Linked DNA regions of Homo sapiens. The protein of the gene in region 1 interacts with the protein of each later gene in a pairwise test. Each region holds a gene or a part of one and is shown in the gene's direction. Other genes may lie near its edges. The genes, in order: OPRM1, PMP22, SEC22A and VAPA.

Region 1 (7,026 bases):
GAAATAAATGTAAATTAAATGTTTCACAACATTTTATAGCAAAGTGAGAAGTCCTCCATTCTCCCCTTCACTAAGCTAGTGGAGAATATAATACAAAATAGCAACCTAATATATAGTCTTTCTCCATGTTAATGCCAATGAGAGGATAATCACTAGTTTTGATTATGCTTTTTCTTATTTTAGAACCTCCCCCCCCAACAGACAGACAGACACACACACACACACTCACAAGTAAAAACGCACCTGGGATATCAGAATGGAATAGATGGATAATAATGGATCAATTAACTCAGGTAGATACTCATTTGACCATATTCTTTGCCTAAATAATTACTTGAAATGTAGGAAAGTATCTTTATCTCATTGGATTGATCCAATTAAATATGAGTATTAAAGTATGACACTCTAGGGAGGATTTTTTTCTCGACTAAAAAGGTTAATTTCTATGTGAGGGTAAGTGGACATAAAAGTCATGGCAAATGCAAGAAATATATCTTTCCAAGCACATTGCTGAACATATAAAAGGGGCTTGTTGAATTCTTACTGAATTAGGTATCTTTCTTCACACTACTTGGTAAAAAAAATGAAAAGGCAGAAAAATTAGCCCCAAAAGAGATGAAACTCTTCCGTCCATCACCATTGACTCTATTGTGAACTTATGAAAAAGGTAGTTGAGCAATATGAAGGCCATGATGTGGAATTAAACACACACACACACACACACACACACACACACACATGCTGGATTCTAAAATGTGTCCTTCCTCCTCTCACTCTCTTGATCAGTTTTATTTCTGAACTGAGACACGATCACCACAATTCAAATAATTAACCACAAAACTAAACAGAAGTTTACAAAACCCATCAGGTGTACAGAGGTAATTTATTTAGTCTGGCTTCACTTAACACAAATAGGTCAAAAGCAATCACATTTTGTAAGTAGTAATAGTTGGAGAAATGTGTGAAGAATAGGTCAAAAGATAAATAAGAATTATTTTATAACCATAAGAAAGGAAGAACATCTATAAACAAAAGTCATATATGCAACATAAAAGAATAGGTGAGCTGCCAGCAAATGGGCCTCACAATGCCTTTTCCCCAACACTTCTGGAAGTTCCATAAAAATCACTCTAATGGGTCAAACATCGATGGTTCTCAGAAGAACACAATTTTTTTCAAAAACGAATAGCATTGTAAATTCATTTGAATTCATAAAACAAAAGAGCTATTTAATCATCTAGACCAAAGTTAAAGAAATACCTACTACAAAAATTTTAATGGGATAATTAGAAAGAAATAGCTTGGGCCACTGCTTCGAGCAGAAGATGGAGTTCAGTGGCTACCATAGGAAGGGTCAATATCAGGATGGCCTGTGAGTCCAGATGAGTCTCTCTTTGCCCATTTTGCCACAGAACACATTCACAGCACAGTACAAAGCAGTAGGCATGGAGTAAGGAAAAAGGCTTGTGTTTTAATAGCCAGGAGTTCTACTCGGACCCACTCAGGTAAACTGAATGGCAAAGATAATTCTTCCTGCAGGTCATTTCTTTTGCTAGTTTGCTAACTCTGAGTCCTATGCTCCTGTGCAAGGCCCATGATGTGACTCTGAGCATTCATTGAACTTTGCTGGGACAACATTCATGCCACCACATCAGAACAGAATGAAAGCTTGCCCTTTTTTTTTTTTTTTTTGAGACAGTGTCTCTCTCTGTTGCTCAGGCTGGAATGCAGTGGTACGATTCTCCTGCCTCAGCCTCCCAAGTAGCTGGGATTGCAGGTGCCTGCCACCACCCCCAGCTAATTTTTCTAATTTTAGTAGAGACAGGGTTGACCAGGCTGGTCTCCTTCCCCTGCCCTCAAGTGATCCATTCACCTCAGCCTCCCAAAGTGCTGGGATTATAGGCTTGAGCCACCAGGCCCAGCCCACATTACTCCTTTTCTGATTAGACCATCTCTTCAGATTAAAGCCTTTGGGTATATGCTGGAGGCAATTGGAATTCTTAATCCTTTAGCTTTGTATAATTTTCTTTCACATATTTAGAAGATCGTTGAGCCCCCTTTTATATGTTGCTGTGATCCAAAGCATGAGTAACTGGGGTAAGAATGCTGGCTATCTTTAGAGGAAGACTTTTTAAATAAATTGAGAAAAATTAAACAGCATCATTCCTATAAAATGCCCGTTGAAAGAATTTTTATAGATAAATATTCACTTTTTTTTGGTAAATTGATGATAAAATTATGTATATTTACCATATACAACATGATGTTTTGAAATGTATACACATTGTGGAATGGCTAGCATGCTAATTAACTATGCATAACCACGTTTCCTTTCACCATGTTGAACCCTGACATAATTTTTTTTTCCACAAACACCTCACTCTGGAGAAGGAAATGATTTTTTTTAATTAAAATAAACATACATTGGAAATACTTAGTGCTAAAATAAGCCTGAAGGAAAGGTTGGAAGTATGATGAGTCAGAAAACTGACTGTAAAGAAACCAATTACTTAACATAAAACACCATTAAAGATAAGCCACGAAATGTAAGGTCTGCTGGGTAGGAAAGTGGCAAATGCAATGAAGCATGTCTTTAGATCATGCAGGTCTATAACCAACGGTGAATCTAGCAAAAGTTATTTTCTCTTTTGGGGAGAAACTTCTTCTTATTAAAAAAATAAAAAATGTTTCAACTTCTTGAGCACCAAGGTCAATTATTCTAAATCTTAAAACCACAGTTTTAATTTTGCTTTTTTGTTGGTTTTTGTACTTTGGAGTATTTGTCTACATTATCCTTTTTATATTTGCCATATTTAAAGTCCAAACTAAAAGCAAATTATTTTCTCTCCTCAAGTTAAATGGCTCTATCTTTTTCTTTAAAATCCATTAAGAAAGTGAAACTCCCAAAGTAAGTCCAAAAAAAAGCCCCCAAGTCTGAAAATGTGGAGCTTTTCTGGCAGTAATGCAGCTTCTGCAAGTATTGCAGACCAGATCAGGTATCAGAATTTTAAAGCTTCAGTAACAAAGCTGTCCTATTGACCCTGAGGAGATTTATGAAATCACTTTCCTGATGTTATTGAAACCAAAACACTTTCCTGGACACTGAATTCAGTCCTAAACAAAGGGCCTCCAACCAACAGCTGTCTTGGGCTGAATGAGTTAGACTCAACCTCGTGTGACGGAAAAACAGTAAACACAAGCTAACATTTAAAAGGAATTGATGGCACCGTGTAAATCAGAAGCCCAAGGAGGGCCTGGCTTCAGGTGTGGGGTTCTCTCTCACGCTCTCAAATCCACATCCTCCGGATTAGGTCCATTTTCAGACAAGCTCCTCCAGCAACTACATACCATGCGTCTTCTCAGGTGTGGGTCCTGCAGGAAAACTAATACACTCTTTGTCCATAAGTCTCAAAATAAACTCTCACTGGCTCTGGTTGGAACATGAGAGCATCCTTGCCATTCACCATGGCCCCGGTCACTAAACGTCTTCACGCCCTGGACTGGTAATACAGCCTATCCCAAAGCACCTGGACTGAGAACGGGAAATGAGTGGTTCCCAGAGTGAAACTGAGGTACTATTACTAAATTAAGGTAAATATATGTGGAATGTTAAAAAAAAAATGATGTCCAATGTTTACAAGGTATACTTCTGCCATCAGATATAATGTATTATTGCAAGTGTACCTGCTTATATTCTACTATCATATTTCTAATTTCTGCAGGCCTTGAAAACATATAACACTCCTAGATACTTACCCAGGAGGAAGAAAAGCATATGTTTATATAAAGACTTGCACATGAATGTTCGTAACAGTTCATTTGTAACATCCAAAAGTTGTATGCAACTCAGTTCCCATTAATAGGTGAATGGATTAAAAAAAAAAACAGATGAATGCATAAGTAATACTACTTGTCAATAACAAGGAATTAATTCTTGTTATATGCAACCACATAGATGAATCTCAAAATAATGACACTGAGTGAAAGAAGCAGCACAAAAAAAGAGTACATACTGAATGATTCTATTTGCATCTTCTAGGAAATGCAAACTAATCTATAAGAACAGAAAGCAAACCAAGATCAGCAATTGCCTGAGGAATAGTGAGGGTTGGATATGAGGACAGGGAGGGGCAAACAGGAAAGATTAAAGAGCTACACAAAGACACTTTTGGGAGCAATTGATGTCATTATCTTCATCAGAGGTTGACATTTTTTTCTGTAAAGTGCAAGATAGTAAATAACTTAGGCTTTGCATGTCATCTGATCTCTGTTGCAATTATTGAACTTTGCCATTGTAGCATCAAAACACTTATGGGTTTTTAAATAGGTGTATTTATTTATAAAACAGGCAACGGTCCAATTGGGTCTACACACCATAGTTTGCCAATCTCTGATCTTAATTATGGTGGTGGTTTCACAGGTGTACACACGTATCAAAGCTTATCAAATTGTATACTTTAATTATGCGTTATTTATTATAGGTCAATTCCACCTCAATAAAGCATTAAAAAATAAAAACAAAGCAAACACACTTGGGTTCCTCATCATGGATTGGATAGAGTCTAATCTTACCATGGCATACAAGTTCTTCATGTACTGGCCTCTCTTCTTCCCCAGTCAGATCCCTTGCCATTCCCTGGTAGAATGTGCTTGACACACACATCAGGCCATTCCAACTCTACATCTTTGTTGGGGTTCTCTCTGTTACCTCTCTGTCTAGAATGACCTGCTCCTACCAAGTGTCTAACTCAATCATCCTGCTTGTGCTTTGAGATTAAACTTGCACTTCCAGGATGCCTTCCACATCTTACTCCTACTATTCCCTTTGCCTTATGCTCTGTGAGATGCCTCATCTCTGTGCCCCATAATCGCCTGTGTGTTTGTATGTGCATGTGTTTGTGTACATACCTATAGACACTTGCACAATTATACTTCTTGATAATTTTAACTATATTTATATAGCTAAAATTTTCTCTTTTATATTTAGAATTACTATCCAGTCGCTGCCCCTACTATTTGACTGGAATCTCCCTCTTTCTATTAGACCTATCACAATGACTGACACATTACAAAAAAAAAAATTAAAACCCTCACTGCGTGTGGTGTCTCATGCCTGTAACACAAACACTTTGGGAGGCCGAGGAGGGAGGACTGCTTGAGCCCAAGAGTTCAAGACCACCCTAAGCAACATGTCAAGACCCTGTCCCTACAAAAGTTTTTTAAAATTAACAGGGTATGGTGGCATGCACCTGGGATCCCAGTTATTCAGGAGGTGAGGCAAGAGGATCTCTTGAGTCCAGGAGGTTAAAGCTGTAGTGAGCTCTGTTCATACCATTACACTCCAGCCTGGGTAACAGGGCAAGATCCTATCCAAAAAAAAAAAAAAAGGAAGAAACTCAACAAAGCAGCATCGTTGCTATTATTGCAGCTATTTAGCCAATAGGTACATCATTGACATCATTGTAAATAGCCAAGCTGATACTGGAAAACAATTCTATATCTAATCTCAAAAAAGCTTTCTACTAATTCATGCAAATTTATTATTGGAAGCTTACCTATATTTTACACTAGTGTCTTTTACTGATTCTCACTCTTCTTCCTTTATCTCCTAGATACACCAAGATGAAGACTGCCACCAACATCTACATTTTCAACCTTGCTCTGGCAGATGCCTTAGCCACCAGTACCCTGCCCTTCCAGAGTGTGAATTACCTAATGGGAACATGGCCATTTGGAACCATCCTTTGCAAGATAGTGATCTCCATAGATTACTATAACATGTTCACCAGCATATTCACCCTCTGCACCATGAGTGTTGATCGATACATTGCAGTCTGCCACCCTGTCAAGGCCTTAGATTTCCGTACTCCCCGAAATGCCAAAATTATCAATGTCTGCAACTGGATCCTCTCTTCAGCCATTGGTCTTCCTGTAATGTTCATGGCTACAACAAAATACAGGCAAGGTGAGTGATGTTACCAGCCTGAGGGAAGGAGGGTTCACAGCCTGATATGTTGGTGATGTCATAAGCAAAGCAGTATTTATGGAGTGCCCCATTGTCTTAGTCACATTGTAATTTTAATTATTCTTCCTAGCAAAAAAAGCCTTTGAATACTTAAAAATAGGAATTTTCCTCATAATTTTAGGCCTATTAAATCCTTTAAAGAGAATGTAATCTATTTATTTCTGATTTCTCTGTATTTACTTCATAAAAATGGTGTGTAAATTAGTACATAGCTCTCCCAAGAGTAATTGGAGCTTAAACCCAAAGAGTATTACACTGAGGCTTGTTTAAAATTATCAAGTGGCTGACTACATGGCAAATGTATCTTTCTACACCTAATATCAGAATATTGAACAATCCATCAAAAAATGAAGTGAAAACATCCATTACCTGGAGCCGCCTAGAGACTTTGGACAATTATTACATTTTTTATATCAATATAGACCTCATGGAGGATCTAGCTCATGTTGAGAGGTTCATTTTTGTTCCCTGAACGAAAGCTTAATGTGATCGAAGTGGACTGCAAAATGGGAAATTTAGAAAAAAACAAAAAACATTAGAAGTAAAACTTTCTTTGAAAAGTAACAAACAACTGAGTTTCTTCCACAATTTCTTTATAGCCTTAAGTTAGCTCTGGTCAAGGCTAAAAATGAATGAGCAAAATGGCAGTATTAACACCTTATGACATAATTAAATGTTGCTGCTAATTTTTCCTTTAAATTCCTTTCTTCTAGGTTCCATAGATTGTACACTAACATTCTCTCATCCAACCTGGTACTGGGAAAACCTGCTGAAGATCTGTGTTTTCATCTTCGCCTTCATTATGCCAGTGCTCATCATTACCGTGTGCTATGGACTGATGATCTTGCGCCTCAAGAGTGTCCGCATGCTCTCTGGCTCCAAAGAAAAGGACAGGAATCTTCGAAGGATCACCAGGATGGTGCTGGTGGTGGTGGCTGTGTTCATCGTCTGCTGGACTCCCATTCACATTTACGTCATCATTAAAGCCTTGGTTACAATCC
Region 2 (7,390 bases), on another chromosome or scaffold:
CCATTTCTTGGTGTGGCTTCGACTGCCTGAAGCAGGCATTTCCTTGGGTTACATGGGCCTTCCTGTGCACCTCTCTCAATAAGGACAATCTCTCACATCAAGCCAAGGCTGCTTTTCTCGACATTTCTATGCCTGGTCTGCAGTGGCCTAGAAAATCCCTGCATTCCTCCCCATTCCGTCCATTCCCGTGTGGCAAGATTGCTCTGCTTCCCCATTTTATTTGAACCTATGCCCTACTGGAGCAGAAGCATTTTCACTTAGGAGTAAACAGTCTTAGAAAAGTTTTAGAGTTTGCAATCCCAAGTACACATCCATTTCTGACTCTTGCTTAAATTGCTCCCCAATCCTCTAGCTGCTAACTCATGAGATGTCAGAGAAAAGACTGCTTTCCCCCCTCCACTTGCATCTGTGGAATCTGGCTTTCCTAAGCAACAATGCATTTGTGAACAGAGAATCCTTTGTACTTGGTCTGGTCCCACTGCCACAACATAATAATTCTGTGACTTCTCTCTCCCACAGGTGAAGGAGTTAATATACAATTTACTCCAAGATACCTTTCTATATTTTAAAGATGTCATTTAGGGAACAGTCCTGTGCCAATGTGAGTTTTTTTTTGTGTGTGTCTTTATGTTGCTTTCTGACTGCGTCTGTGTTGTTCATAAAGAATATCTTCTAGGGATTGGGACCTGTCATAATTTCAAACTTGCTTATTTGTAGAAGATTCTGTCACAGAAGTCAAACTGGCTCCTTCTGTTCCTTTTCTTCTCCCTTCTCCTTCTCTTCCCTCCCCTCTTCCTATCTATATCTCCCTCCCTCCCTCTCTCCTTCCATCTTTCCTTCCTTCCTTCCTTCCTCCCTCCCTCCCTCTTTCCTTCCTTCCTTCCTTCCTTCCCCTCTGCCTTCTTTCCCTGCCTTGCTTGTTCTTTCAACAAGCTGCTCTCACTCGACATCAAAACAGTCTAGCTGAGTCTAGATGAGGCAGGACTGACTTTTGAGGACCCTTCCAGGCCAGCTGTGTCCAGGGCTGGCCAAGAACTCCCACACAGGCTGCTGGCTATGAGGACACAGGAAAGACTTCATTCTTAGTGTAAACACTTTTCAGATATTGACTGAGCACCTGGTGGGATAGATGCTGCAACAACAACTTCATCACCTGGACAAACACCAAATTCAGACTTGCCTCTGGTTTTCTCTCTGGGGAGCCTGCACAGTGAAAAAATTACAGGTTTGGGAGTCAGAGGAATGGACTTTTTTAAGCCCCAGCCCTGGCATTCACTAGCTAGTCCCTGGAGGAAACACTGTAAATTTTCCAAGCCTCAGTTTCTTCACATAGAAAATGATTATAATGATTCCTCTTAAATAAGATACTGCCATATGTTAACAGCATTTTATTAGCTATAAAGTGCGGAAGGGTTTCCTCCCTCTTCAAGAGTCTGCTGGGATTCCACTGTCATGGACAACATTTCATTCTTATGAAATTAAAATCTCACCTACAGGCAGGATTCTGCCAGTGCTTATGCTATACAGACATATGGAATGCAAATGTCCTCGGAGGAGCACACAGCCTTGTTGGCAGGATGAGACAGGATTCTTGAAAGCTGTACTAAATGTGACTGGTGCTGAAAAAAAAATGGATGTCTTAGGATATGTTCTTGCTTTTTAATGGAAAAAGAAACGTGAATGCATAAATATGTATAATGTGAGAATATCTTTCATACAAATAGGACATTAAATGATAGTGTCTATGGAAGCATGATGAGAAGATATGCTAGGAACGTGCTGGGCACAATTAGGGGCACGGTAGAATGTGAGATAGTCCAGGCTGTGAGTACGGGATCTGTAGCCAGAATGCCTGGTTGGAATCCAGCCTCTGTCATTTCTTTGCAGTGTGTCTTGAGAAAGTGACTGAACATCTCGCTGTGCCTCAGTTTCTCCCTCTTCTAAAAGAGGATGATGGGGTGCCTATTTCATACGGTTGTGAGGATTAAGTGATTTGATGCATATAAAATATTCAAGATGGTGCCTGGCATATGCTAAACACGAAGTAAATATAACCTATTATCATCATTATCAAGGACTTGCGGATAACTGATGCTACTGAGCCGATGGAGCGTGGTGTAGCAGAACAGCTCAGGTGCTAGAAATAGCCAGTCTCATTGACTCAACTGTGTTTCCTCAGAGAATCCCGATTCTCATTTTTCCTATCTGTAAATGGAAGGGAGGATAGCAAATAATAATAAATGTTATTTGGTGACTATTCTATGTGTTTATTTTGCAAGAGGCTCAGTGGGATATAGCCTACAGCTTTGCAGAGACATTGCTCAACACAGATGCATGGGATAGGGGTCCCATTTGGCTGAGAAAAGGTTATTGGAAATGGGAGACGAGGAAGGAGTTTTCCTCACCTGACTCTGGGAAGGGAAGAGAGTCTGGCCCAGATGGGTAAAGACAAGTGTGTTGGCATCTGGTAGACAGGGCCAGTGGCACACAACAGTGAACAGCTCTACTGCTGACAGCCAACAGGGACTTCGGGGTTTGGCTGCTGGAGATGGAGGACCTGGGCAAAAGAGACGTGAGGCCAAGAGAGCAGGTCTCAGAATGTGGAGCTCATGGAAGGAGAGAGGGAGGGCTAATCAGACTGCTCCTATCTGGCCAGAAGCCATGCCCCACACTCACCAGGCCCTACCCCTTTTCCTCTGAATCTTTAGCTCTTAGATCAGAAATAATCTTACGTGTCTTCAGGCTTGATCCTGGCCTGACGGACAGCAGCCTCTGTCGTGTAGCCTTTGGAGCTGATCATGGCAGTACCCAGGAAAAGACTGTCTGGAGAGGCTGCAAAAACCATGCTCACTGTTCCCAGTCCCCGTACAGACCATGTCAGAGGAGGACTGAGGGAGGCTCCTCTCTCTCTCTCTCTGTCACACACACGCACACGCGCACACACACACACACAGATACACGCGCACACACACACACCGTTTTGCCTGGCAGAACAGACTTATAACTTGCATAATACTGCAGCAGCCCACACTGTACCTCATCTCCATTTGGGTTCCACAACAGAAGGGAGCTGGAAGGAAATCAGCGACAATCTAACTCCACATGACAACCTGGCTGGACAACGAAACATCCAGCGGGGAGAAAGACACTGGAAATTACCCATACCTGAGCCCCATCCCAAAACACCTGAGTCAGCTTCTCTGACCATGGCCCAGGCTAGGTCATTTGCAAAGCTCTTGAGTGATTCTAAAGAACCACTGCTGTGAAAAATAAAAATGATTTCAGCAAAGAGAGAAAGGTGAAACTATTTTATTGGCACTGGCTGTGATGCTGGCTGTGAGCAGATGCTGGCTGTGGGCAGAACAGGGGAGAGGGCCATTGAGAGGCCCTTGTGACTGGAGAGTCCAATCAAACGTAAAGTGTGTGACAGGGAGGGACTCCTCCAAATTCTGCAGGTCTCTCCAGACTGGGGATCCCTAACACAAGAGGAAGTCTTATGCCCCAAGTGCCAGAATTCCAGGAAACTCATGCAATGAAACCAGTCCTCTTGTGTCAGAGTTTGCAGCTAGAAGCGGTTCAAGGGATGGAGGACTCTCTGGGAGCTGGAGTGGTACGCTGCAAAGAACCTAAATATGCCATAACTTCCTTTACTTCCCTCTCCAAGAATTTCCAATTGCTCTTCCAGCCTATTCTGCCTGACAGGTTAGAAAGTTTTCAATAGTTTTCAATAGAGGTTCGTTTACTTGCATTGAATTATCTCATGAAGGTCAGCTTGATTCGGGCACATTAAAGACAGAGTCGGAAGAACACATTTCCCTAAGTTTTATTCTAATGTACAACACATGTGATCATTTGCGATGGGGTCTAGGCAGACAAGGCAGGTAACAGGGAGTCCTTCCAACCAGGGGTTGGAACAAAGGAGGCTTGATTTGGTGACTCTTGAGACATTTGGCTCACTGCTGTGATGCTGTGAGAGATTAGCTGTGCAATGTTTGGGCTCCTTAAAAGGAAGTTTATTTAAAATAAAACTTACCTGCACGTATGTAACACTGTAGACACAGATCCTTCCCACAGTATATTTAATCTCTGCAGAATTCACTGGGAGGGGAGGGGAGCCAGTGGGACCTCTTGGCTATTACACAGGTTGGCACTTCCAGAGAGAACAGTCTTGGCATCACAGGCTTCAGGCATACTCAAAGCTCTTCTCCCTTCTGATTCCAGTTTCTCCATGCCCTGCAGGGCCTCTTGGGATTATTGTATTCTGGAAAGCAAACAAAGTTGGACACTGTCTCTTTAAATAATAGAGGCTGAGAACCTCTCAGGCCACCATGACATATCCCAGCATTGGACCAGCCCCTGAATAAACTGGAAAGACGCCTGGTCTGGCTTCAGTTACAGGGAGCACCACCAGGGAACATCTCGGGGAGCCTGGTTGGAAGCTGCAGGCTTAGTCTGTCGGCTGCGGGTCTCTGACTGCCCTGTGGGGAGGGTCTTGCCTTAACATCCCTTGCATTTGGCTGCAAAGAAATCTGCTTGGAAGAAGGGGTTACGCTGTTTGGCCGGGTGAGTTTTATTGGCAAACTGTGCCTCTGGGTGATGTGTGCCTATGCTTTACAAGAATTGCCTAATTTCCCACCCCCTGCAAGCCGCAAATGAAAAGGATTGCAGGAGAGATGGTGCATTTGTGTTGGAATTGACTGGAGATTCAGAGGGCTTTTTATATCCTTGGTTAAAAGGTGGATATATACTCTGGCTGGGGAGGTGGGGGGCCATCTGAGAGCATCTAGAAACCCTAATGCATCCAGATTGAAAGGAAGAAAGGAATCTAGATGCTTTTTCCCCCATGGAAAATAGCTGTGCACACACAGCTGGCAGGTGGCCTTGGTAAGCAGGTTAGGGAGAAGCTGCCACCTGTGGCAGAGCCTTGGCCAGCCGGGCTCTGGGTGTGGCAAGCCTGGTCAGCAGGCACTGAGTAGCACTTCCTCTGCCACCATTGAGAACCAGGCAGGAGGCCAGAGGCAGTGAGGGACAGATGGGTTGGGTTTACCTGTCTGGCAGTATATGGTGTGGCTGTGACCTGGGTGGTTATTGATTAAACTATTGGGTTCAAAAGAAAGGAAGAAGCGAGCTGTAGCACCCAATATATGCACTTTTCTGTATGTGTATTAGACTTTATTAAAAAGTTTATTTGAAAATCACAAAGGAAGGGAAAGAAAACCCTGAGTTAGATATGCTCATATTTCTAAAGTGCTTACTTAGAACAGTCCTGAGTATGTTGTGATCACATAAGTGTTGGTTAAATAAATAAATGTCCAAATGGCATAAAACAAAGTAATAATTTCTAGAGCAAATCTAACTTATAAAATGACCTGTGGAGGAAAGAAAACACTGCCATGTCTTTAGACTTTTTTTTCTACTTGCATATGCACTTTCATTTATAAATCTTTATCTATCTATCTATATCTATCTATCTATCTATCTATCTACCTACCTACCTACCTACCTATCAGAGTTACAAGCTACTTTAGTGCAGAGGTGGTCAGGTCTTCCCTGAAAGGTTGATGTGAGAGTTAAATGTGATATAATAATAGTGGTGGCAATTTGGGCACTGGGCCCTTATTATGTTGCAGACACGATGTTAACTGCTTTGTACATATTGTCTCCTTCAATCACCACCATAAACCTTTAAAGCAGGCATTACTATTTCCTTTTGCACCTGAGAAAACTGAAGCTCAGTGAACTTGAGAAATTGCCCAAATTCACAACAAAAGTAAGCAGGGTGATTAGGTTTGTTGGAGCCCAGAGCCAGAGTGCCTAACCACTGCACCATACTGCCTCTCACAGACCATGCATATAAAGTCCAGGCAAAGTGCTTGGCATATAACGGGCACTGTAAATGCAGTGTTTACAAGTACACTTCATTTTAATCTGATAACACGATAGTTTTAAAAAGATCATTGTTTGAAGATCTTTTTCAAATTTATTTTTACTTACCGTAAGAATATACAATTAGCTAAAATAGCAGCTCCTTTCAAATCGTAAAATAATATAGAATTATTTGAATCATTGAGAGTGATGAGCTTCTATGACACAGTACACTAGAGGTAGGGAAGTGTGTGTGTGTGTGTGTGTGCGCGCGCGTGCGTGAACTGCTGCATTTTCAGGCAGAAACCTTTAACATCCACATTCCTGCTCCCTGTCCCGTGCCTCAAGGCTGGCCTGCGCACGGGAGTCTCAGTTGGGCGCGCCTCTGCCAAGCCGAGACTGAAGGGGGCTAGCCTCTCTCCCTGTAACGCTGGGCGGGCCACGTTAGGAGGCTATGAATCAGCTGATTTCCTTGGCTGCTCCAACCCCACCTCAAATGGCCACCTCGCACCCGCCCGCCAAACCCCATGGCCAGGACTCCAGCCAAGGCTGACAGCCAAGCCCGACTGCTGCAGGAACACTTTGCCTAGAGCTTATTCGGTGGTAGTCTGGTTTTGCCTAGGCTAGGAGGAGCCCAATCCCAGACCATGCTATCCAGTAGTCGGCCGGACTTTTCTTCCCCTAATTCGCACCCAAGAGGAGCCCGCTAGATCAATCCCCGCCAATCCTAGGAAGCTGGCATGCTTCGTAGGTGCAGACAGTAATAGCGGGGACCGGCGCGGGGCAGGTGTGTCCGGCTAAGACGCCAGGACAGGGCAGGGGCTCCAGGACCCGAGAGGAGAGGGACTTCTTCCAGCGCTCAAGCGCCCGCTGCCCTCTATTAGTGGGAAAGGAATCCAGCCTCAGCCCCGCGCGGGCGCGGTCGGCGTCGGCGGGCCCAGAAGCCCAGCCCTGGGCATCCGCTGAGCTACATTTGGCTGGGTCTTCCCAGAGTGGGCTGAGGAGCCAGTTTCTCGGTCAACACTAGGTCTCCACGGGGCCAGGGGAGAAGGGAGGTGGGAGGTGAGAAAGCTCAGCCGCCTCTGGTTTCGAGTAAAAGTCGCCGCGGTTTTGCAGGGACCGACTTTTTCTTGAGGCGCATTTAAGGCCAAGTGACTGTCTCCTGCCCTCCCTCTCTCCTGCCCCCTCTCCTCCCTGAGTCCCGCCCTCCCGCACACGCTGACCCAGGGACACACCCTACTGCAGCGACGCAAACAGGGCGTTGTTCCCGTTAAAGGGGAACGCCAGGAGCCTCCCACTGCCCCCTTGCTTCGCGCGCGCGCAGCCCCGCAGCGCAGCTTTGGCGGCGCCAGCAGCGGAGCCAACGCACCCGAGTTTGTGTTTGAGGCCACCCTGAGGATCGGGACAGCTGTTCCTTTGGGCTGTAAGTGATTTGGTGGGGAGAGTGAAGGAGATGGAGGAGAAATGTGGGCATCTTCCAGTGAGGGTGCCAGAAAGCGCAGCGCAGGCGCGGGGCTTTGGCCAG
Region 3 (7,026 bases), on another chromosome or scaffold:
CCACTGGTTCTTCCTTGGGATTTTCCCAACCACAACCCTCCTTAAGACCTTAAAGATACTTTAACCTAGCTTAGGCCTGACATGGACAGATTTCCTTTTCTGCTAGCACAGTCCAGATAAGATTAGTTTAAAAAAAAACAAACTATATTATGAATCCGTGGTAAAAAGAAAAAAAGTAGGGGTATGTTTATTGAATTGATGGAGAGACAGCTTAGCCTAAGGTGGTTGGAATCTGTCTACAAATTAGTTAAGCCTGACGTTGATCATTGGACATTCATCCCCGTTTGTCAGGCTTAAATTCAAGTGCTTTGGATGCTGAATCAAATTACTGTGGTAGAAAGAGGTTTAATTTTTTCCCTAAGAAAAATCTTATCTATGGATAAGTAGAAACCATTCTCTGACAACCTTGTAATAATTTTGACAGGGAATGTAACTACTGTGTTCTGCTTTTGGTTAAAGGCTAAAGTACATATTAGGAAAATTTGAGGCTGGGCGCAGTGGCTCACACCTGTAATCCCAGCACTTTGTGAGGCCGACGCAGGTGGATCACTTGAGGTCAGAATTTGAGACCAGCCTGGCCAACACAGTTAAGCCCCATCTCTACTAAAAATACAAAAATTAGCCAGGCATGGTGGCGGGCACCTGTAATCCCAGCTACTTGGCAGGATGAGGCAGGGGAATCGCTTGAACCTGGGAGGCAGAGGTTGCAGTGAGCCATTGCACTCCAGCCTGGGCAACAGAGTGAGACCCTGTTTCAAAACAAAACAAAACAAAACAAAAAAACAACAAAAAAAGGAGTATTTGAAATGTAAGTTTGTCCAACTTTAGTTTTCCAGTTAGTGAAGTGGTGGGCAACACACCTGCATTGTTTGCTCTTTTCAACTGAGTTTCTCTAATTGAGGAGTGATGTTTCTTGATGGTAGGACTCTTCATTCCTGCTATCTGGCATAATTCATGGGACACATTAGATATTCAGTAAATGTTTGGTAAACGAATGGAACTTACAAATTGTATTCTTTTTACAGTATGTGTTTTAGAAAGCATGGATCATATATTTATTGATCTGTCCTCCAAGTCACTAAAGAATAACTTTGAAGACTACATGAAATTTGGCAACCTATTAATGAAGTCTATTCATAATATTTCTATTAGGATCCTAGAGAGGCCAGACATAAAATAATACAGTCTACTTTTATTTTACTTTTTGAGACAGGATCTCTCTCATCACCCAGGTTGGACTGCAGTGGCACAATCATAGCTCACCATTGCCTTGAACTCCTGGGCCTGCTTCAGCCTCCCCAAAGCAAGTACTATAGGCGTGTGCCACCATGCCCAGCTGATTTTTAATTTTTTTTATAGAGACAGAGCCTCACCATGTTTCTAGGTTGGTCTTGAACTCCTGGCCTCAAGCAGTGTTGGGATTATGGGTATAAGCCATGGCACCCCATCCAATCTGCTTTTAAATACTAAAATGTGGGTATTTAGAACTGCAAGTTACAACTCACCCTCAAATTAATTCCCAGAATGGTTATTGTGTTGCAGTGTACTTCTGGAAAGACAACAGTTTTATAGTTAAATAATAAACGCTTAAGGGGATAGAGTAAGACATTTTCCTACTTTCTTACACTTAGGCTAAATGTTACAATTGTGATTTAATAATTAAGTAAAACATGGTAAAAAAAAAATTAAAGAGGGGTTTATAGTATAGATATCTCTTCAGGGATCCCAACTTTTTCATGCTACTGCTTTTAGGAGAGAAAAAAACTAGATGAATGGAAAAAAACACCAATTGGGATATGTCACACTGGGACTTCAGTTTGAAGACTCCACTGTAGTAAAAAGACTAATTTGCTTCTGGATATTTTTCTCTTTAAATGAATGGAGAGGCTGGGCGTGGTAGCTCATGCCTGTAATCCTAGTACTTTGGGAGGCTGAGGTGGACAGATCACTTCAGGCCAGGAGTTTGAGACCAGCCTGGCCAACATGGCGAAACCTCATCTCTACTGAAAATACAAAAATGAGCTGGGTGTTGTGGCGCATGCCTGTAATCCTAGCTACTCGCGAGGCTGAGGCATGAGAATTGCTTGAATCTGGGAGGTGGAGGTTGCAGTGAACTGAGATCGCACCACTACACTCGTCTGGGTGACACAGTGAGACCCTGTCTCTGAAGGAGAAAAATATTAAAGGGTAATGACACAGTAACACCTAGAGATTTCTCCTTTTTCCTCATGAAAAGAGGAAAAAGGGATAGTGAACTTAATGCATTAGATTTATTAGTTGGGTTAATTTTTATTGTCAGATCAGTTATCACCATGAATGGGAAGTCATATTTTGACTTCACACAGCAGTGAAAACTATCAGCTCCTGATTTACAAGCTTTGTAACAACTGGTTTTCTGTGGTATTTTTTTTTATATATATTACTCATTTTTTCCTTTTTGGAATGAGATAATATTGACCTAGATTAAGTGGGCAGGTAAGGATTAATTTAGTCTCTAAGATACAATATTTTTGGAAAAATGCCTGTGAGATTTTTATCAGATTTTTGAATTTTCACCAGTTGCCTCACCACTAGTGAGGAAGCCTTTAGTGACATTGTGCTTTGATGGCCTGACAGAGAAGAGTTATCACTTAATCTTAGATAGTGAACATGTTTTAATTTAATGTTTTAAAAAGTATGGGCCTTAGACAATAAGCAAATTGTCAAGCCCTATCCCACAGTCAGTGGTTCAGAATTTTGAGGGCAGAGCTCAGAAATCTGCATTTTTAACTAAACTTTCAACTTCTTATGCAAGCTAAAGTTTGAGAGCCACTGTGTATTTTATGAAAGGTTGAGTGACTGTTGACCTGAGTTCCTTCAGACTCAGGCCTGTGAAGTCCTTTCATCTGTTTTTGTAAAGCAAGAAGAGAATCCAATAAAATAGGCCATTAAGATTTACTTTCTGGTAAAAAGATTGAGAACAACATTAAAACCAATATTCCTTTAGCTTTAGGATTTATTTTAAATAATTTTTTTCTGATTATAAAAGTAGTATATGTCTACTGTGAATATTGAGAACATTTAGGAAATTATAAAATAATAATAACCAATAATACCATTTCTTAGAGGTGAGCATATTCTTAATTTGGCATCTTTTTCTGCATCCGTTTTTCAATCCCTTTTTCCTTCTCTTTATCTTCGTCTCTTTATCCTTATGTTTGTGTAAAACAACATTTGCAATTTTTATCCTACTTTTTTCTCCTTAACATGTAAGCATTTTACCACATTATTAAACTTTCTCCACAAACATAACTTTTAGTTGCTGCATTATATTCTGTTATATGAATATACTATAATTTACTTAACCATCACCATTTTATAGGATATTTAGATTGCTTTCAGTTATTTGAGTGGAAGAATGTCTTTCTGTTTAAAATTTTGCCTGGATTTCTGATTATTTTTCTCAAGACAGGTATATATTTAAATTTATTGAGGTTAAAAGGTATGCCTTCAGACTCTTGTTGAAATTGCCAAATCATTTTGAGAACTGTTTGTACCAGTTTTTACTTCCATCTGTACTTATGAGAATGCCAGACAGAAGTATTATTTTTTAAAAAGCTAATGTGGCTGGGTGTGGTGGCTCATGCCTGTAATCCCAGCACTGTGGCAGGCGCCTATAGTCCCAGCCACATCCTATGCTGTGGCATGGGAACCCAGGCTGAGGCATGAGAATTGCTTGAACCCTGGATGGGGGATGTTGCAGTCAGCCAAGATGGCGCCACTGCACTCCAGCCTGGGTGACAGAGCAAGATGCTGTCTCAAAAAAAAAAACAAAAAACAAAAAACAAAAGCTATATGTTAAGTGAAGCATAGTATGTTGTTTTAATTAGTTTTTTGTTTTTTTTTTCCTCCTGAGACGGAGTCTCACTCTGTCGCCCAGGCTGGAGCTCAGTGACGCGATTTCGGCTCACTGCAACCTCTGCCTCCCGGGTTCAAGCAATTCTCCTGCCTCGGCCTCCTGAGTAGCTGGGATTACAGGTGTGCACCACCACGCCTGGCTAATTTTTGTATTTTTAGTAGAGAAGGGGTTTCATCATGTTGGCCAGGCTGGTCTCAAACTCCTGATCTTGTGATCCACCCTCCTCAGCCACCCAAAGTGCTGGGATTACAGGTGTGAGCCACCACACCTGGCCATTTTAATTACTATTCTTATATTACTAGTAAGTTGAACATTTTTACATATGCTTATCAAGTTTGGCTTTAATTTTTATGTAACCCAAATTGTTCATTTTGTTTTAGGTCTTCTCTGTTGGTTGAAATGTCTATGATTTTATCTGCCTCAGTCATTCGTGTCAGAGATGGACTGCCACTTTCTGCTTCTACTGATTATGAACAAAGCACAGGAATGCAGGAGTGCAGAAAGTATTTTAAAATGCTTTCGAGGAAACTTGCTCAACTTCCTGATAGATGTACACTGAAAACTGGACATTATAACATTAAGTAAGACTTCAGTTTGCTTCATTTGACTCATTTGCCCAGTAGTTGTCATTTTAATGAAGTTTAAGTGGTTGCAATAGAAAGGAGTGATTAGGAAAACCTGTTCAAGTCGAGCATCATATTGTTCTGAACTTATACTAAATAGTCATCATGTCAGCAGCAGCCTTTTTGTAGTTTCTTTGTATCTGGCTCTGGGAAATTTTATAGTTGTGCAGATCATAGATATCCCTCTTTTAAGTTGATCACTAAATATTTATTTGCATTCTTACATACCTAGGGTTGTAGTAAGCAAACTATAATTGGAAATAAAAATTTTTTACCTGATATCTGCCCTCAAAGAACTGAAGCAACTTACGTCTAGTGGGAGGGGGTAGCACTTATCACTGAGTCACATACAAATCAAGTAAAACTGGGCAATGGGATAGAGAGTGACTATTTATTGTGGTCAAGACACTCTCTGAGAGGGTGACATTTGAGCAGAGACCTAAAAGATGAGAGAGGAGGTAATTATATGAAGGATGCTGTGGATGAAGAGCAAGGCAGAGGTAGCAGCCAGTGGAGAAGCCCTTTTTTACATGCCAAGAGACAGAAAGAAAACCAGTGATCCTGAAGAATTATGGACAATTAATAGAGTTGCAGAAAGTGAGGCCAGAAAGGTAGGAATGGGGCAAGTTATGTAGTGAGTTTGGAGTCTATTAGTCTGTTTAGTCTAATGCAGTAGGAAGCCATTGGGTAGTTTTAAGCTATAGAGTTACATGATTTCATTTGGCTTAGAGTAGATCATTCTGCCTGCACTGTGAAGAATAAAGGAGGAAGTGGAAGCAGAGAGGTCAGATGGAAGACTCAGAGAAGTTCAGGTGGAGGTGCTGATTGTAACGAGCTAGGGTAGTAATGAATAGAAGTAGTTAGATTGGGGCTATATTTTGGGATTAATACCAGCAAATCTTCCTACTGGATTGAAATAGGATGTGAAGGTAAAAGAAGAATAATCACCTGTAGTTTTTTGGCCTGAGGAACTGGATGAATAATGTAGCTGAAATGAGCAAGAAAGGAGAGGATAAGTGCGTCTCCTTGGTAAAAAGTAAGAGTTCTGTTTGGACATGTTAAATCTGAGATGCCCATTAGACATCCAAGGGGCACTGCTAGGTAAGCAGCTGGATATATGAGTCTGAAGCTTAGTGAAGAGGACAAGTATAGACATTTAGATTTGGAAGTCAGCTTACAGTTTGTGATTAAAACCATGGGAATGGATGAGACCACCTTGGAAAGCTTAGACGTGAAACAATTAGAGAACAATTAATGTCTGATATCAAGCTGGATATTGATTATGCATACAGAAGGAAATAAGGTAAAAACACAGTCCATATAGGATATAATAAGCAGAGGGCTTCGTTGTTGAGATGAGACATGAGCCATGTCCTGAAGAATTAATAAGAGTTGGCTAAGGCAGGGAGGAGGGCATTCCAGGTGTACGGAGGAGAGGCAGAATAAGCAAAGAATGTGACTTAGCATGGTAGGTGTATTAACATGCTTATCCTGGGTCAGTGGATGGTGATTTATGGATAGTTGTGAGACATGCGTGATAATCATTGTGGGGCCAGATCCTGGATCGCCCTGAAAGTTCAGATTGAAGGACGTGACTTTGATGTAATATGTTATAGGAAGCTGTGCTGCAGGTTCAAGGGAAGTGACTTGATAAAAACAATCCTGAGACAGTGGAACTTAGGGTGAGTGGACAGTCCAAGAGGAGAGAGATAAGGCAGAGAGGCCAACTTATTAGGGCCTGAAGTAAGAAAATAAACGTGCAAATGAAAATTAGAACACCAAAAGAACTAGAATGATAATGAGAAATAGTTTGATTGGGGATCACTTTGAAGTTGGATCACTTCAAAAGAAGTGACCAAGCTGGATAGGATGGAATACCAGAGATGAAAAGAAGGAAGGGGCAAAGATGACTGAAGCCTTGGAATTGGACAGAATGTTGGTGTCATTGCCAGAAATGAGATCTTTGGAACAGACTGTTTATGAGGTGTGAGGCAGAAGAGAAAGATAATGAAGCTCCATTTTGATCATTTTTTTAAGACACTGGGGCTTGCTCTGTTACCTAGGCTGGAATGCAGTGGCATGATGACAGCTCACTGAGCCTCAACCTCTTGGACTCAAGTGATCCTCCCACTTCAGCCTCTTGAGTAGCTGGGACTACAGGTGCACACCACCACACCCAGCTAATTTTTTTATTTTTAGTAGGGATGAGGTCTCACCATGTTGCCTAGGTTGACCTCAAACACCTGGGCTCAAGTGATCCTCCTGCTTGGCCTCCCAAAGTACTGGGATTACAGACATGAGCCACTGCACCTGGCCCACTTTAATTATTTAACTTGAGGTTTTAGGCCAAGCACAGTGGCTCACACCTGTAATCTCAGCACTTTGAGAGGCCGAGGCAGGCAGATCACTTGAGCCCAGGAGTTTGAGATCAGCATGGGCAACATGGGGAGACCCTGTCTCTACAAAAAACTAAAAAATTAGCCAGGCGTGACATAGTCCCAGCTA
Region 4 (6,953 bases), on another chromosome or scaffold:
TCACCAGTACCTGCCACAGTGCTGGGCACACAGCAGTAATTTAACATTTAATATTAATAAGGTAACAGTGCTGGAATCAGGCACTATTATAAGCTCTTCATGTGTAGGAACTCATTGAATCCTGGTAACAAACCCAGAATGTAGGTATTCTTCTTCTTCTCATTTTACAGATGTAAAACAGGCACAGAGAGGTGGAGTGAGCTGCAAAGATCACACAGTGGAAAATGGAACTTGAACCTAGCAGTCTAGATTCAAAGCCTGTATTTTACTTTACTGCCTCAATATTTATGGAAAGCATGCCTGTTTAAATGTTCACTGAAGTCAATAACTCAGAGAATTGCTCATAAACAAATTCATAATTATAGAGCACCTCTACTGTAAAGTTTAACATGTTTAACTATGGAGAAGTAGAGGGGTATAAGTACTTTGATACTATCCGTACTGAAAACAAAAAAAAATCTTTGCCAAGTCCATAAGAGAGAACTTGTCCAAAGGTGAATACTATTAGTGATTCAAATAGGTTGAAATAATATTCAAAGCCTTTGTACTTCTTAGACTCATGAAAATTTGGTTGCTTGATATGCTGGAGTGTATATATTTGCTAATACTTTAAGGCCTTTCTGTGCTGCATTAGCCAATCTAAAAAGAGCAAACAAAATGAACATAGGTCACATGGTTCATTATTCCTAGCTTAAATGTTAAACAATAGAGAAGTCAATGACATTTTAAATTGTGGGTTGTCATTTTATTGCGGCTTTGGGAAGAGCAAAAATGCACAGAATAGAACATTGGGCAATGTCCCCTGCCCATAGCTGAGCTCTATTACTAAGATGAGATGCTGTCATCTGTGTTTTCATTTCCACATTTAACAACAAAAGCGGCACTTGCCAACTGTCATGAAGTTGTTCTGAGTAGGGTGTGATGATGTTTGTAAAGTTTGTAGTGCTGGAAGAAAAGTACTAATAAATACCAAAGCACAAACCACTTAAATAGTGCACAATTCGATGTGAAGTAGAAGATTCAAAATGACTCAGTGATTATTAATCTAATGCTCTAAAATACGAATAGGGGATTAATCCCAAGATGTTTCACATATTCTTAGAATATTAGAATTTTAAATTCTTATATGTTTTAAGACTATACCTACATGATTTTTGAAGCAATATTGAGAAGTGAAAAAACAGTTGATTCCAACGACAGATGACTCAAATGGGCAGAGATTTCTTAATAATATAGACTGGGAAACTAGAATACATCCAATTCAGGCTTCCCATTAAATCTATAGTGAATGGGCGATCATTCATCCTCCCATAGGGGAGTTACTGGGAATTTCCTCCGCATGCTATTCTGCTAGTTGACTATTTGCACATGGGGGCTTCCCAAATGGTTTCCGGTAAGAGAAGTGTGCTTCCTGCTATGGAGGGACTGGATCAGCCTAGGCTAGCTGGCCCATGGAAGAGAGTTCTTAGGCCGGCAAAAAACTGGAGTTTGTGAGGGCCTTTAGGGTTGTCAATTCACAACTAAACCTATGTGGGACACTATCCTTTGGACTGATTGTCACTTTTAGCTTTTTTTTTTTCTTAAACAAAAACAAAACTTGAACCCCCATTTTAATAAACAATTTTTTTTGTATTCTACCTTAATGATAATTGACATCTCAAAATAAATTTTGTGAATAGGAAGAAATCACAGTAAAGGTAAATTTAGAATATGCTTCAAACTACTTAAGCACTCTATCCTCCTGCATCCGGAGTTGATTCCTTCCAGTGGGTTCCTGGTCTTGCTGACTTCAAAAATGAAGCCCCGGACCTTCACGGTGAATGTTACAGCTCTTAAAGATGGCACAAACCCAGGCCAGGCGTGGTGGCTCATGCCTGTAATCCCAACACTTTGGGAGGCCAAGGCGGGTGGATCACTAGGTCAGTCCTGTAATCCCAGCACTTTGGGAGGCCAAGGCGGGTGAATCATGAGGTCAGGAGATCGAGACCATCCTGGTTAACACGGTGAAACCCCACCTCTACTAAAAATATAAAAAAATTAGCTGGGCATGGAGACAGGCGCCTGTAGTCCCAGCTACTCAGGTGGCTGAGGCAGGAGAATGGCGTGAACCTGGGAGGCGGAGCTTGCAGTGAGCTGAGATCACGCCACTGCACTCTAGCCTGGGGGACAGAGCGAGACTCCCTCTCAAAAAAAAAAAAAAAAAAAAAGAAAGAAAGAAATGATGGCACAAACCCAAAGACTGAGCAGCAGCAAGATTTATTGTGAAGAGCAAAAGAACAAAGCTTCCACAATGTGGAAAAGGACCCAAGCAGGCTGCCCCTGCAGGCTGGGGTGGCCAGTTTTTATTGGCTTATTTGTCCCTGCCCATGCCCTGCTGATTGGTCCATTTTACAGAGTGCTGATTGGTCCATTTTACAAACCTCTAGCTACCTACAGAGTGCTGATAGGTGCGTTTTTACAGAGCACTGATTGGTGCATTTTACAAAACTCTAGCTAGCTACAGAGTGCTGATTGGTGCATTTTACAATCCTCTTGTAAGAAAAGTTCTCCAAGTCCCCACCCAACCCAGAAATCCAGCTGGCTTCACCTCTCACTCCCAGGAATTTCAGGGCTGAAAACACATTCCTCGTGGGTGGCACAATCTTCTGTGAATGCCAGGCTAGCAATTCCAGCAGGCTGTTCCTGGATGGACCCTAATACCTGGATCGCACATGAAAACTTGGATTTGGTGCCTACTTCTAGACTGCTGTTTCGTCTCGTTTATTTTCTAGACAAACTGTGCTGCTCCATGGCAGTAGCATCAATATGTCTTTTGTTTCGTGGCGCTACCTAGGGATTTAAATTCAAACCGTATCACAAAATACAATAAAGGTTTATTTACAGCACATTGGTTTCATTTGACGTTCCTGTACCGGACTACCCTGGCAATCGGCTAAAGTTTTGTCAGCAAGTTTGCTGCTGGGATTTTTCTTATTTGGTTCAGTTTACTACAGCCTATCGTAAGTGATGCAGATGGAGTTAGTTTCTAACATGTGAACGTGAGAACTGTTTTGGTTTGGGTCCATCATTAAAACTGAAGAAGATTATTTGGGTTCGATGGTGTAGATTTTTGACTTTTATTTCTAGTTTCTGTGTGCTTTGTCATATTTCCCCTTGCTTCCTAGACGAGGTGTGTTTCCTTATCTGATTTTGCATCACTGGAGAGAACTCAGGAAGCAGGAGAGGCTGAATTGGATACCACGGGGAATGCAGCCCTGCCAACAGAGGACTGGATAGAATTAGAGCAAACGGACACATCCCCCCACGCCTGTTCTCCACAGGGCAGATTTTATTAATATATTTCTAACATTGGGGCCTCGTTTCAGTCTTCAAGTTTTTTCTTTTTTAGCGCAAACTAGACGCGCTCTGAGAGCCAAAATTAGCGTCCGCGAACCCCACCCCATTGCCTCCAACAGACCTAGCTCTCCTTTCCACCCTCAAACAGCCGTTACTACAGTTCCCAGCAAGCACCGCGCAGGGCCGCAAAGGGCCAGGCCCTCGGCGAAGGCCCCGCCCCGCAGGGGGCATGCCGGGAGTTGTAGTGAGTGGGCGCTTCCCTACTACTACTTGTCCCTTCCACTGGGCATTCCCACTTGGAAGAGTGTGATGCGCTGCCAGAGCAGTTTCTCTAGTTCCGTACTCGGAGCTCAAGGTGACAGAGGACTGCGCTTCCAGCCCTGCGCTGCGCATCGCGTCGGTCCCGCGGACCTTTGCCCCGCCTCCTTCCACACCCGTTCCCTTGACAGCTGGGCTGCGCTCCGGGCCGCGGCAAGCCGCGAGCGCGCAGGCGCAGCAGCCCCGCGCCGCGCTAGGCCGGCCTGGAGGGCGGGACAAGCGCTAGAAGCTCCCGGCCGGGGGCGCGCACGTAGGCACGCAGAGGCCGTCACGTGGGTCGCCGAGGCTCGCAAGTGCGCGTGGCCGTGGCGGCTGGTGTGGGGTTGAGTCAGTTGTGGGACCCGGAGCTGCTGACCCAGCGGGTGGCCCACCGAACCGGTGACACAGCGGCAGGCGTTAGGGCTCGGGAGCCGCGAGCCTGGCCTCGTCCTAGAGCTCGGCCGAGCCGTCGCCGCCGTCGTCCCCCGCCCCCAGTCAGCAAACCGCCGCCGCGGGCGCGCCCCCGCTCTGCGCTGTCTCTCCGATGGCGTCCGCCTCAGGGGCCATGGCGAAGCACGAGCAGATCCTGGTCCTCGATCCGCCCACAGACCTCAAATTCAAAGGTAGGCAGAACGGGGACACCCCCGGGTGGGGTGGGGCGCGCGGACCGCTGGCTGTCGGCGGGGGGGCGCGGAGGGCACGTCCGCGGCCCTGGCCCGAGGGAGCGCCCCCTCCCCCACGCCCCGGCGCCTTCCCTTTCCCGGCTGCTTTCTTGCCGCCACCTCGGCCGGCCTGCCCCTTGCTCCGGCCCGCTTCATCCCCTCCCGCCCGCCCTCGCTGCGGTGCGCGCGCCGGCCGGGGCGAGGCGGAGGGGAGCCCGGCCCTGGCGCCGCCGCCGCCGCCATCTTGCGGTCCCGCGGGGGCGCCTCCTGGGCGTCCGGTCCCGCCCGCGCCGCGGTCCGCCTGGGCCCGCGTCCTTGGCCCCAGAGGCCGACGGCGTGCTTCGGCGGGGCGTGGGCGGCTGGGCACCCGAGGGCGTGCGCTCTGGGCTGCGGCGGGGAGTGGGCTCTGGAGGTGGCGCAAGCTGCGTCTGTCGCCCGCTCCCGGCTGTCAGCGGCGCGGGGAGGCTAGGGCACGGCGCGGGACCCCTTGGGAGTGAGAGCCGCCCCCCGACCCCTGCCCCGGCCCGGGGAGAGCTCGCTGCAGCCGGCCCTCGGGTTCCGCGGAGGGCGTCGCTTGTCACCTTTCCGCCAGGTTTAGAACTCGGCCGTCAGGTGTAGGACGCGCCGGGGAGGTGGAGAGTCCTTGGAGGTGCCTGGCGAGGGCTGCCCGGTGCTGTTGGCACGGACCCAGGTGCGTGCGGGCAGGAGCGATGCGTCAGCCGCAAACGGAGAGTTGTAGGTTCATAGTAGCGGGGCTTCCTGCCTTCTACGACATTTCAGTGTGCCACCCGCGTGCTTTTATTTAGCCCTTTAGTTGAGCTCCTCTGCTGAGAAACCTTCAGTGCGTGTGACTTTTTTGCTTTTACGTTTGCGGTTTCCGACAGATCCTGAGAAGGCTGATAAGGTGTCACCCAGCTCTGGAACTTTGTAGGTTTTTGTAGTACTGCCTGTGATAAGTTTTTTAGTCTGACTTGGTGATCCTGGAAGAATCCCAGGGGCTTTTGGTCGGTTTCCTTGTCAATATGTAGTGTACTTTAGGAAAGAGAGTTAAAATGTACAGATTTTTATTTTTTTTCTTTGTTTTTAAGGAATACTGAAAGAGTGTGAACATCTAATAGAAAGTAGGTTCCTTCCTATCTTTAGTTAAGTGTAAAGTGAGTCCCGTTTTGGAAGTCTATGTCTTGTATTTCAATTGTTGAATGAGAACAATTTTTGTGAGGTGTATAGCAATTCTAGTGCTAAAAGAAAAAATTAAATCCTTTATTGTTGTGTAAGGCTGAGTCCAAGAGAAAGCCAACTACATTGTTTTCCATAGGAAAAACTTCAGGTTTAGGAATTTAAAATATATTCTGGAATTATGAGATTAATATTGCATAACTACATTGCAAGCTTTTTAGTGCGTTTACAAATTTCTTTGAATAGAAGTGTAAGTGAGCTACTTGTTGGGTAAGGATTTGGTTTTAAGGTGCAGTGAATGTATTTTATTGCAAGTTTATGTAAGTTGTGTGATTTTTACGTAGTTGTAGCTGGGGGAAAACCTTTGAGGAATTATGAAGAGTCCTGACTCAGCCATTATCTTGAGATAATTTAATGTAAATCTGTATGGTGTGTTTTTTTTTAATATTTCGTTTTTATCTTTTGATTGGCTGTGTTTACAGTGAACATTTCCTCTACTGGATAACTATGTGTAAATTGCCATTAGGGATTTATAAGCCTTTACAACCAGTTTTAGGCCAGGAAATGTCCACAGAGTTTGAAGTTTTCTCCTTAGGGAAGTTGTTATGTTGCTATAGTAAGGGAGTAATAATAGTGGAGAAGCAAGTTTAAAAAACAAGCAAAAGCCCTACACAGTGACTTACTCATATATTTCCTTTTTTGGGGGTGTTGGAGAATTACAGCTATGATTATAGAACTCATTGTTTTTGTGTTGCCAGTAAAAATAAGACTAGCCAGGGAAGCAGAAAAGGTGTGTAGATGGTATAACAGAGACACAACCGTGTCTGAGGAAAGAAGCCCTTTCTCTATGTGCCCCATCCCTCCCTTAGGAAGCATTTAAGGAAAAGGCTTGTTTTTCATTTCAGGGGAGGTTTAGGCCAAGAGAGTGGTTGAGTAAACACACTGCTGTGAGAGAATGCCTGGTACTTAAATGCCCAATAGTTTGTTGTGTGTTTCAGTTTAAAGATGGAGATGATGGGGAGGATTGGGAGGTGACATTTGGTGTTTGATTCCTTAATATTATCGTTTTAGTCAAAGGTAAATTGTTGGCTTTGATGGAAACCTTTGTGTATTTAAATGCACAGTTCAACACTGAGGAGATTCATTTAGAATGTACAGTCTACTTGGGCTTAGTTTATGATAGAAAAAAATCATTTAACTGACTTACCCTAAGTCATTCAAAACTTTCTAAGTGAAGGACTTTTAGAAGACAGTTTTGCAAAATTCTTTGTCATCTTCTAGTAGGTTTATTTTAGTTATTGATTCTGAGTTTGAGATGGTTTCTCCAGGAGTGACTCAGGTAATCATTCTGAGATTGGATGGTTTTTCTTTTATACACCTAACAAGCATCTTGAAGATGAATTAACAGTATGTTGCACAATTTTGCAAAAGCAGACACCAACTATTTCAGTACATTTTTCTGTATACCTCAGTATTTAAAAA

The links.
Region 2: the proteins of OPRM1 (region 1) and PMP22 interact in binary tests that used the Homo sapiens proteins (3 or more experiments, as listed by UniProt).
Region 3: the proteins of OPRM1 (region 1) and SEC22A interact in binary tests that used the Homo sapiens proteins (3 or more experiments, as listed by UniProt).
Region 4: the proteins of OPRM1 (region 1) and VAPA interact in binary tests that used the Homo sapiens proteins (3 or more experiments, as listed by UniProt).

The regions. Positions count from the first base shown.
Region 1 is NC_000006.12:154,084,214-154,091,239, forward strand, and holds part of OPRM1 (mu-type opioid receptor), read left to right. Parts: intron 1-2,293; exon of another isoform or gene 2,294-3,591; intron 3,592-5,548; exon of another isoform or gene 5,549-5,612; coding exon 5,613-5,965; intron 5,966-6,738; coding exon 6,739-7,026. UniProt on the Homo sapiens protein: Receptor for endogenous opioids such as beta-endorphin and endomorphin. Receptor for natural and synthetic opioids including morphine, heroin, DAMGO, fentanyl, etorphine, buprenorphin and methadone.
Region 2 is NC_000017.11:15,262,327-15,269,716, reverse strand, and holds the start of PMP22 (peripheral myelin protein 22), read left to right. Parts: upstream 1-4,390; 5' UTR 4,391-4,563; intron 4,564-7,164; exon of another isoform or gene 7,165-7,292; intron 7,293-7,390. UniProt on the Homo sapiens protein: Might be involved in growth regulation, and in myelinization in the peripheral nervous system.
Region 3 is NC_000003.12:123,204,921-123,211,946, forward strand, and holds part of SEC22A (vesicle-trafficking protein SEC22a), read left to right. Parts: intron 1-1,380; exon of another isoform or gene 1,381-2,187; intron 2,188-3,900; exon of another isoform or gene 3,901-4,017; intron 4,018-4,278; 5' UTR 4,279-4,297; coding exon 4,298-4,479; intron 4,480-7,026. UniProt on the Homo sapiens protein: May be involved in vesicle transport between the ER and the Golgi complex.
Region 4 is NC_000018.10:9,910,080-9,917,032, forward strand, and holds the start of VAPA (vesicle-associated membrane protein-associated protein A), read left to right. Parts: upstream 1-3,936; 5' UTR 3,937-4,177; coding exon 4,178-4,256; intron 4,257-4,524; exon of another isoform or gene 4,525-4,986; intron 4,987-6,953. UniProt on the Homo sapiens protein: Endoplasmic reticulum (ER)-anchored protein that mediates the formation of contact sites between the ER and endosomes via interaction with FFAT motif-containing proteins such as STARD3 or WDR44.